Regions from separate parts of the Homo sapiens genome. Here region 2 is linked to region 1. Evidence: fine-mapped expression QTL. Tissue or cell type: cerebellum. Region 1 holds a variant in brackets; the other region holds the start of a gene. All regions are shown on one strand. Distances are between the middles of the regions.

Region 1 (5,143 bases):
CAAGCAATCCTCCCACCTCGGCCTCCCAAAGTACTGGGATTACAGGCATAAGCCACCACGCCAGGCCTGCTCTACTTTTTTTTTTTTTTTTTAAAGACAGGGTCTTGCTCTGTTGCCCAGGCTGGAATGCAGTTTCATGATCACAGCTCATTTCAGCTTTGACCTCCCAGGCTCAAGTGACACTCCCACCTCAGCCTCCTAAGTAGCTGGGACTATAGGCCCATGCTACCCTGCCCAGCTATTTTTTTTTCTTAATTTTTGTTTTTTGTAGCGACACAGTCTCTGTATGTTGTCCAGGCTGGTTTTGAACTCCTGGGCTGAAAGGATCCTCCCACCTACGCCTCCCAAAGTGCTGGGATTATAGTTGTGAACCACCGTGCCCTGCCCTGTTCTCCTTTTTTAATAGCAACAGTCCCCTCCCAACAGACGATAGAATTCACTGGTTTATGATGTTTATTGTTTCCTGCCTGTCCCCACTGGGAAGGTCACTCTGTGGGGGAACCATCTTTGAATTGTTCACTGCTGTAGGCTCAGAGTCTAGCATAGGGTCCGGTGCATGCGTATAGCAGGAGCTCAATAAACACTCGTGGAATGGTGGAAGAGGCTGGTTCAGTCTCGACTCTGCTGCCTGGCAACTATGTGACCTTGGATGAGCACTGCCAGGTCTCACCCGCCGGTGACAATGGCTCTCTTATGCCTCACCCAAAGGCTGCTAGTGCAGGTTACGTAAGAGCAGAAGAAAAGGCACTTTGACGGTCACTCCCTGGGTCCCAGTTCCCAGCTCCCACCTTTCTCTCCCTTTCTCCATTGCCCCACCCACCCCTCTTGCCTCTTTGAAGGAGCTTGGCCCAGGAAGGAGGGCCCAGGCTGGCCCCGGATTAGGGTTGGTCCTGGGTTCTAGGCTCAGAGTGGCAGTATGGGGACAGAAAGGCAGAGGGCAGTGACTCAGTTTTGTCTCTCTTAGAGACAGGTCAATGTTCTTAGGCCTGTTGGATTCTGCCCCCATCTGCTCTTTTTGAGGTCAACTTTATTGAGGTATAATTTACATACAATAGGCCGGGCAAGGTGGCTCACACCTGTAATCCTAGCACTTTGGGAGGTCAAGGCAAATCATTTGAGGCCAGGAGTTCAAGACCAGCCTGGCCAACATGGTGAAACTCCATCTCCACTAAAAATACAAAAATTAACCAGGTGTGGTTGTGCACACCTGTAATCCCAGCTACTCAGGTGGCTGAGGCATGAGAATCACTTGAATCCAGAAGGTAGAGGTTGCAGTGAGCCAAGACTGCACCACTGCACTCTAGCCTGGGCAACAGAGCAAGGCTGGCTCCAAAAAAATTGTTTCATATGATAAATTGCACCCGTTAAAATCAATTAGGCCAGGCTCATGCCTGTAATTCCAGCACTTTGAGAGGCCGAGGCAGAAGGATCGCTTGAGCCCAGGAGTTTGAGACCAGCCTGAGCAATGCTGCGAGACCCTGTCTCAAAATAAATAAATAAATAAATAAAATACAGTTAAATGAGTTTTGACAGATGAATATACTGTGAAAAACCACTCCCATAATCAAGATACATGATATTCTCATCATCCCCAAATTTCCTCATGCTTCTTTGCAGTCTGCCCCTCTCTCCAGCTCCAGGCCCCGGTAACCACTGATCTGCTTTTGGTCACTATGAATTAGTTTTACCTCTTCTAGAATTTTACATTGGTGGAATCATATACTATGTAGCGTCTTGCATCTGGCTTTTTTTTATGTGTCATAATGCTTTTGGGATTTATTCTTATTTTTGCATGTATCAGTAGTTTGTTCTTTCTTTTCTTTTCTTTTTTTTTTTTTGAGATGGAGTTTCACTCTTGTTGCCCAGACTGGAGTGCAATGGCACAATCTCGGCTCACTACAACCTCCGCCTCCCGAGTTCAAGTGATTCTCCTGCCTTGGCCTCCCAAGTGGCTGGGATTACAGGCATGTGCCACCATGCCCAGCTAATTTTGTATTTTTAGTAGAGACAGGGTTTTGCCATGTTGGTCAGGCTGGTCTTGAACTCCCGACCTCAGGTGATCGGCCCGCCTCGACCTCCCAAAGTGCTGGGATTACAGGCGTGAGCCACCACGTCCGGCCCAGTTCTTTCCTTTTTTAAAAAACTTGCTAAGGAGTATTATGTTGTCTGAGTGTACCACAGTTTGCTTATCCACCCACCTGTTGATTTACATCTGATGGTTTCCAGGTTGGGGCTATTG[T/C]GCATAAAGGTGCATTTGTAGACAGGTTTTTTATTTTTTATTTACCTTATTTTATTTTTGAGACAGAATCTTGCTCTGTTGCCCAGGCTGGAGTGCAGTGGTGCAATCTCGGCTCACTGCAACCTCCACCTCCCAGGTTCAAGCAATTCTCCTGCCTCAGCTTCCTGAGTAGCTGGGATTACAGGCACCCACCATCACGCCCGGCTAATTTTTGTATTTTTAGTAGGGATGGGGTTTCACCATGTTGTTCAGGCTGGTCTTGAACTCCTGACCTCAAGTAATCCGCCCTCTTCGGCCTCCCAAAGTGCTGGGATTACAGGTGTGAGCCGCCACACCTGGCTAATTTTTGTATTTTTAGTAGAGACGTGGTTTCACCATGTTGACTGGGCTGGTCTCAAACTCCTGACCTCAAGTGATCTGCCCGCCTCAGCCTCCCAAAGTGCTGGGATTACAGGCATGAGCCACTCGCCCCTCCTAAATTTTTTTGGTAGAGACAGGGTCTCAACATATTACCCTGGGTGGCCTCCACCTCCTGGGCTCATGTGATCCTCCAGCCTTGGTCTTCCAAAGCGTTGGGATTACAGGCATTAGCCACCACACCTGGCTAATGTAGACAGGTCTTTACATGCCACTATTGTTCATAGCAAATATTTTGTAACATGTAGGGCTGATAGACAAAATATTTACTGCTTGGCAAAGTCATCAGTCCATCCAACATCCGGGATATGGGTCCCTCTTATCTCCCACTATACCCAGTTTAACCCCTGGACTTCTGGGCCAGAGGGCAGCCCAGGGGATCCCCAGGGAGAGCTAGGAGGATACTAATAGTCAGGGGGTTCATGGCAGTGACCGTTTATGAATGAGTAAATAATCCATAATTTAGTGTTTTGCTGTCTTAACCACTGGCGTGGCCATACCAGGGCGTGTGCTGGCTTGAATGTCAGTTCTGGGAAAGTTCTCTCTGTTCTCCTGAAATGAAGTTCATAGACAGTATAACCCACTGGCACATGATTTAACATGATTTAAGAAAATCCTACTTTGGGAGGCCAAGGTGGGCAGATCACTCGAGTCCAGGAATTTGAGACCAGCCTGAGCAACATGGTGAAACCCCATCTCTACTTAAAATACACACACACACACACACACACACACACACACACGTATTTTTAGTAGAGATGGGGTTTCACCATGTTGGCCAGGCTGGTCTCGAACTCCTGACCTCAAGTAATCCATCCGCCTTGGCCTCCCAAACTGCTGGCATTACAGGCGTGCGACACCGCACCTAGCTAATTTTTGTATTTTTAGTAGAGACATTATATATATAAATATATTTATATATATATATATATAAAAGCTGGGTGTGGTAGTACTTATCTGTAGTCCCAGCTACTCGGGAGGCTGAGGTGGGAGAATCGCCTGAGCCTGGGAAGTTGAGGCTGCAGTGAGCCAAGACTGTGCCACTGCACTGCAGCCTGGGTGACAGAGTGAGACCCTGTCTCAGAAACAACAACAACAGCAGCAGCAACAAAAACGATCCTTGATTGCCCTAAATGTAATAAAAAGGAGAAATAAGAACATAGTAACTTACAATAAGCATTTCATTATGCGGATGTGTGGAGCCAGTCCCCTAGAACCCAAGGAGGTAGGCAGATGTTTATGCCTGTAATATAGACAGTTCCAACACATTGAAAACACGTGGACTGGTGTCCAATTACCAAGAGCCATGTGCAATGTGAGTTTTTTCACATGGTGGACAACCTTTGGCCAAGTTTTGAACAAAACACGATACAAGCTTCCCTCATTTTTTGTGGTAGTTGCACTTCCTGGAAGATTCCGAGGCTATTTAAAAACAAAAAGGACTTTGTACGTACAAGAGAGAGATTTTTGGCCAGGGTTTTCACCTCCAAGTAAGGCTAAAATTTAGTTGGTCTGAACTAGTATGGAAATACTGTTCTTTCTTGTTTGTTTTTGAGACAGAGTCTCGCTCTGTCACCCAGGCTGGAGTGCAGTGGCATGATCTTGGCTCACTGCAACCTCCGCCTCCTGGGTTCAAGCGATTCTCCTGCCTCAGCCTCCTGAGTAGCTGGGACTACAGGCGCCCACCACCATGCCCGGCTAGTTTTTGTATTTTTAGTAGAGACAGGGTTTCACCATATTGGCCAGGCTGGTCTTGAACTCCTGACCTTGTGATCCACCCACCTCGGCCTCCCAAAGTGCTAGGATTACAGGCGTGAGTCACCATACTTGGCCAATACTGGTTGTTAAAATACTGAAATACTTCTGACTGGATAATAATAGTACAAGAGTAGTTGAGAAAGCACTGAAATTCAATACATATTTGAATAAAAATGAATTAGTTCAAGTTAATTGTGACAGATCTTTGTCATATCATAACTTAGGTGATAATAAGGATTTTTGTTTTTTTGAGACAGGGTCTCACTCTGTTGCCCAAGCTGGAATGCAGTGACATGATCATGGCTCACTGTAGCCTTGACCTCCTGGGCTCAGGTGATCCTCCCACCTCAGCATCCTGAGTAGCTGGGACTGCAGGGGTGCACCACCACGCCCAGCTAATTGCTGTATTTTTAGTAGAGACATGGTTTTGCCTTGTTGGCCAGGCTGGTCTTGAACTCCTGGCTTCAAGTGATCTGCCCGCCTCAGCCTCCCAAAGTGGTGGGATTACAGGCATGAGCCACCCCGCCTGGCCCCTAGTCTGGTCTTGAACTCCTGGGCTCAAGCAATTCACCTGCCTCGGCCTTCCAAAGTGCTGGGATTAATGGTGTAAACCACCACGCCCTGCTCAATTTTTGAAATGTTTTGTAGAGATGAGGGTCTCTCTATGTTGCCCAGGCTGGTCTCGAATTCCTGGCTTCAAGCCATCCTCCTGTCTTGGCCTCCCAAGGT
Region 2 (5,143 bases), 46 kb after region 1:
TATCACTGTGTGATGGTCTCAGTCAGTCTCCTCCCTGTCTCCACTCTTTCCCTCTATTTATTTCACTCTCTTGTTTGGTTCTACCCTGCACCCTCGGTCCCCTTCCAGGTTCCTGTTTATAAGCCCCAACCCCTCTGTCCCCATCTTGTATGTGAAAACTTGTCTCAATAAACCCTTTGGAGTAAGATGGGTGACGGTGCCATCTGTTGAGGGCACTGGGGACTTTGGGGGAGGAGTGACCGGCTCTGCCTGGGTTGGGTGGAGTTTGGAGAGAGGGGATATGATGGGTTGGGGTTTTGTGGTAGGGCAGCAGGGGCCGGAGACGGGCCCAGAGCTTGGGTGGGGTGTGGGTGGAGAGAAGTGGAGGCACTGGACCGAATCTCCTTGTGCCCTTTCTGTCCCTAAGTGCTCCCTCCCCAGGGGTAGAGCCCTGGGGAGCAGATACTATGATGACAGTCCAGCTGAAGCCTCAGCCCCGCCTGGGATGTGTGAGGGTGGTGGCGAGGCCAAAGGGCTGGTGCCCAGAGGACGTAAACCCCCTTCCTGTTCCCATCCCAGGCCCACAAGGAGCAGGGAGGGAAAAGGCTGCACCTGCCAGTGGAGGATGATGGCTTTGGGGCGCAGGCTCCTCCATGCTGGGAGGAGGTGCCGCAGGTGCCCGAGCCCTCGTGGCTCATGTCCTGATGCGTCCCTCCTTTCCCTTCTCAGTGGTCCACGTCTACTGTACTGAGTGCTTTACATGGCATTTCACTGGGTCCACAGCCTTAAAAAGAGGGAGCAGGTGTCCACATGCTCCAGATGAGACGGAGGGGACCGCTGCTCCTGTCTCGAGGAGGCTTCCACCACCTACCAGCCAGGCGTCCTCGGTAATCCTAGCACCTCTGCCACAGGGCACTAATGCCCAGTTCCTGGGTTGTAAAGGGCTGTGCCCCAGTCCCCCAGCAGGCCCCAGTGAACATACGAGAAAGGATGGAGGCCGCTGTCTGGACACTCAGGACATGGCAGCGTTTTGCTGGGACAGTCATCTGCCCTTCAGGAAAAAGGGTGCAGGTGGGCAGGAGGCCCTTAGATGACGCCAAGGGGAGCCTTCGTGGGCTCCACGTGGTGTGCTCCCTGCCCATCCCTCTGGGCTCAATGCAGTTCCCCAGGTGGTGGTTTGGGTTTTCACTCCAGCCTCAGACTTCCTTCCTCAGCCCCAGCCCCCGGATGTGGTGACAGAATCGATACTGTACCGACCTCAGCTACCCCCAACGGCCGTACACCAGGAAGAGGGGCTCTTCTGGCAGCCCCCATCCTCAGCCAGCCCTGCCATTTCCAGTCCTGCCAGCATCCCAGCCAGACAGGTGGCCCTTCTCTTAGAGCTCAAACCTAGGCCTTGACTTGTCAATCAAAGGGGTGGGTGGGGCAGCTTCCCTCAAGCAACTTCACTCTGGGATCTTGGGCAAGACGTTTTGCTTCTCTGAGGCTTCAGCTTATTCTGTGTAAACTAAATGGTAGCCACTATTTGATTATTAGCTGGGGAGGAGAGATCAAGCCTGACCCCTGTAGCGGCTGGAGTTTTACAGCAGGGCCCACCCAGCACCCAGTAGGTCCTCACAGATACTTGCTGGGTGACTGAATGGGTGTGCCCACCCATCAAAGCCTGAGTGCTGGAGGTGGCCACCCCTTTCCGCGTATTATCAGAGACAACCACCTCTTACTGAACTGCTGCGTTTCCAGGCACCAGTATACCATGGCATCGGCTCCCACCATCCCATGTGGGGTCAGTCCTATTACAGTCCCAACAGATGGAGGGACTGAGGCTCACAGAGAAGCCACTCACCCAAAGTCACATGGAGAGAAAGACACGCACACGTACTCCACATCCCCAGGAGACACACTCTGCATCTATGAAGTGGTATGGGTGTGCTGTCCTCCCTCGGGGCAGCCCCACACTATCCTAAGGCGGGGTTGGGGTGGGCGGGGGGATGGACCCTCCCCACCCATCCAGTTAGCGCCATGCACCTTGCCCACCATCGCTGGAGACAGACCTAAGGCGAGCCCCTTCCTACCCATCTGGAGGCCTCGGTCTTTCCATGTGTTAAATGGGCTGGGGCCGGGGGACGCTCTGCAGCACCCCCTTCCCTGGGCTGGGACGCGGCGGGGAGGGCAGGGGTGACGCTCGGAGAACAGAGAGGCCGAACCCAGAGAGCGGGCCGGGACCTGATACCGATTTCCCACCCGTCCCCTGCCATGGGCGCCGGACGCCTGCCGGAGAGGGCTCCCCTCCTTAAAGGGCCAGTGGCCTCCAAGCCCGACGCCTGCGACCGGCGGTGGGTGATAGTGTTTCCCCTCCCTGTCCAGCCGAGGGAAAAGTTAACTTTCCAGGCTTGGCTGTGTTCAGGGAAGGAACTGGTCTCGCCTGCCTGCCCTCCATCCCTCACACCATCCCTTGTCCCGGACCCTGGAGGCGGAGGTCCAGCCCCCAACTCGGAGGCCCCGGGCCCACCCTCCCCTTCCGCCCCCGGCCCCTCGGCAGGCTCCGCCCCTCTCTGACGTCGCCGAGGCCCGCGCCGATTGGTCGACTGCACTGTCGCTCCGGACACTTCCTCCTGGGCCGCCGCCGCCGCCGCCGACTTAAACTTTGGAGGGGGAAAAAGAGCTACTGGCGCCTGGCGACCCTCCCTGCCCCCCACCCAACCCCGCTCCGGCAACGCCCCCTTCCTCACGGCTCCCGACCGAACTTTTCTCCAACTTCTGCGACTCGTGAGATTCCCTTCTACCCACTCCGGCCCTCGGGACCCCTCTGCCCATCCCCTGGCCGGTCGGGTCCCTGCGAACCCCTTTATCTCTGGAATCCACTCGGTCCCCGACTCAGAGACTCCTGCCCTCCACCCCCAAGGTGAATTCCCCCGGGCCGCCTTCTGAGTGGGATCCTCTTCTTGGAGCACTGGATCCTGGGATTCCCTCTGCCCCCTTCTCAATCCCTCCTCTAGGGAAGGGGCCTTTGAATCGCGGGCTCTCCTGATCCCTGTGACCCCGACCTACTAGATTTCCTCTCAGGCTTCTTGGAATCTCAATCGCTGGGACCTCCAACCCACTACTTTTCTCCTTTCTGATCTTCTGGGAGCCCTGGATTCCGGGCCTCTGACCCACTATAGTGCCTTTCTCTCCTTCCCAGGACCCCGCCATCCTCAGGTCCCCTCCGCCTGCCAGATCTTTTCTCGGATCCCCGCTCTCCCACCACCTGCTCACGAGATCCCGCGGATCTAGAACCCAGGGTCCCCCGGGGCCCCCCGGCCGGGTCCCGGGTGGGCTCCAGGCGGCCGGTCCCCGGCCTCCCCCCATGGCCACCGCCCCCTCTTATCCCGCCGGGCTCCCTGGCTCTCCCGGGCCGGGGTCTCCTCCGCCCCCCGGCGGCCTAGAGCTGCAGTCGCCGCCACCGCTACTGCCCCAGATCCCGGCCCCGGGTTCCGGGGTCTCCTTTCACATCCAGATCGGGCTGACCCGCGAGTTCGTGCTGTTGCCCGCCGCCTCCGAGCTGGCTCATGTGAAGCAGCTGGCCTGTTCCATCGTGGACCAGAAGGTGAGGGCGCAGGCTCCCTGGATCCAGCTCGGGGAGAGGTTGAAGGAGGGGGCGCTGGCAGAGGGGTCTGGGGCCTGGTGTGCGGAAGAGGGAGGAAGGAGACCTGAGCTTTGGGTGATGGAGGGATAGGGGGCATTGCCCCCCTCCATTGCCCCTCTCCCCACCATCCCTTTGAGAGAGGACTGGGCAGGGGTGGGGTGCCCCAGAGGCCTCCCCAAATTTCATGTCCCTGCATGTCGTTGTTTTCTGCAGCAAACAGGGAGGAAGGGAGGGGCCAGCCAGGTGTAGAGAGGGGAGGAAGGGGCAGCAGATGTCGGCGGACCTCCACGTCCAGGCCCATCCCGGGCCTCCCATTTGGTGGAAACAGGAGAAATTGAACCCGGGCTGGCCATGGTGATCCGGTGACATGTGTGGGTGCAGGTGCTTGAGTTAGCTGCCAGGGGCAAGTGAGGTCTCGGAGCCCAATTCTGCCCTCCCCTAAGCCTGAGATATGTGTGGAGGGGCAGGCACTCCTACAGACCCTGGGGACTCTATTCCCTTTCCTAGTCACAGTGCTGTTAGCCTACTCTTAATTTTGGACACCAGGGTCCCCAGGGTGGGCAGCTGGGTGTTATGGCAAGAGGAAACCAGGTGGAACTCCACGTCTAAACCGTGAAATGTTAAAAGAATAGTGGGCTTCTGTGTTGGAGTACTGGACTGTAGAAATGTTAGAATATTAGAATCATAACTTGTTGGAATATGCATCCTAGGCAATTAAATTGCCCCCATGTTCGTGTTCAAATATTAGAATTCTAGGTTTGTGAAATAGTAAAACATTAAAATGCTGGAATATTAGATTCCTAGATTGTTGAATCCTAGAAAGTTAAAATGTTAGAATTTTAGAATGCTGGATGGATGAGGTCCTTGAATGCTAAAGAATTCAAAGAGCACAGTCCTAGCTTGTCAGACTCCTAGAATATTAAAATATTAGATTACCGCTTATTTAGGTTATTGAAATCCTAAAATGTATAGTGATACCAGGTAGGAATCTAGAATGTATAATTCTATAATGTGAGCATGTTGGAGTCCCAAAATATCCAAATTCCAGAATCTTTTCAGACTCCTGGAAATGAATCCTTTGGGCATCAGAGAAACGTGGGGAACTGGGCCAGCTCCCCCATTCTACAGACAAGGAAACTGAAGCTTAGAGAAAAACTTCCCAAGGGGTCAGGGCCAAGGCAGTCCTGGTCTTCTGTGGACTCTCTCTTAGCAGTGAGAACTGATAGGGTTTTGCCCACCAAATGCCTCAATCCCGCAGGCCCAGCTCACCACCCCAACTCAGCCCACTTCATGGGAAGCTGGTGGCAGTGGGGGTACGGGGGCAGATTGTCCCTTGGGTGAACTTCTTTGTCCAGTGCTCAAGTCCCCAGCCTGCCCCGCTCAGGCTTCACCCCAGTTTTATTTTTCTGCCAGGTCCAGGTGTGTTAGGGCCGCTTACCTTCCTTCCCGAGGCCCCACCGGGGCAGTTTCACTTTCTGTTCTACTAGGTTTCATTTCCTGCCCCCAGGCCCCCAAAGCTGAGGACCCAGACACCTGGGT

What was found. PIP is the estimated chance that this variant, and not a neighbour inherited with it, causes the effect.
Region 2: it holds the start of PRKD2, and the variant in region 1 is fine-mapped to the expression of PRKD2 in cerebellum (GTEx, PIP 0.99).

Annotation. Positions count from the first base shown.
Region 1 is chr19:46,760,475-46,765,617 of GRCh38, reverse strand. No RefSeq gene overlaps it. Among named protein-coding and RNA genes, the nearest start is that of STRN4, 17 kb to the right of the region's middle. RefSeq lists a silencer at 3,872-4,166. The variant T/C (reference allele first, on the strand shown) is at 2,240.
Region 2 is chr19:46,714,553-46,719,695 of GRCh38, reverse strand. PRKD2 (protein kinase D2) reads left to right here and starts at 2,582. Exons shown (of 18, transcript NM_016457.5): 1 at 2,582-3,565. The coding sequence starts at 3,326. It overlaps STRN4 (striatin 4), which reads left to right. Exons shown (of 18, transcript NM_013403.3): 18 at 1-185. It overlaps LOC107987269, which reads left to right. Exons shown (of 4, transcript XM_017027568.2): 1 at 1-1,050; 2 at 1,194-1,343; 3 at 1,720-1,897; 4 at 2,519-3,162. The coding sequence starts at 633. The coding sequence ends at 2,885. RefSeq lists enhancers at 1,287-1,336, 4,848-5,143 and silencers at 2,457-2,616, 2,637-2,686.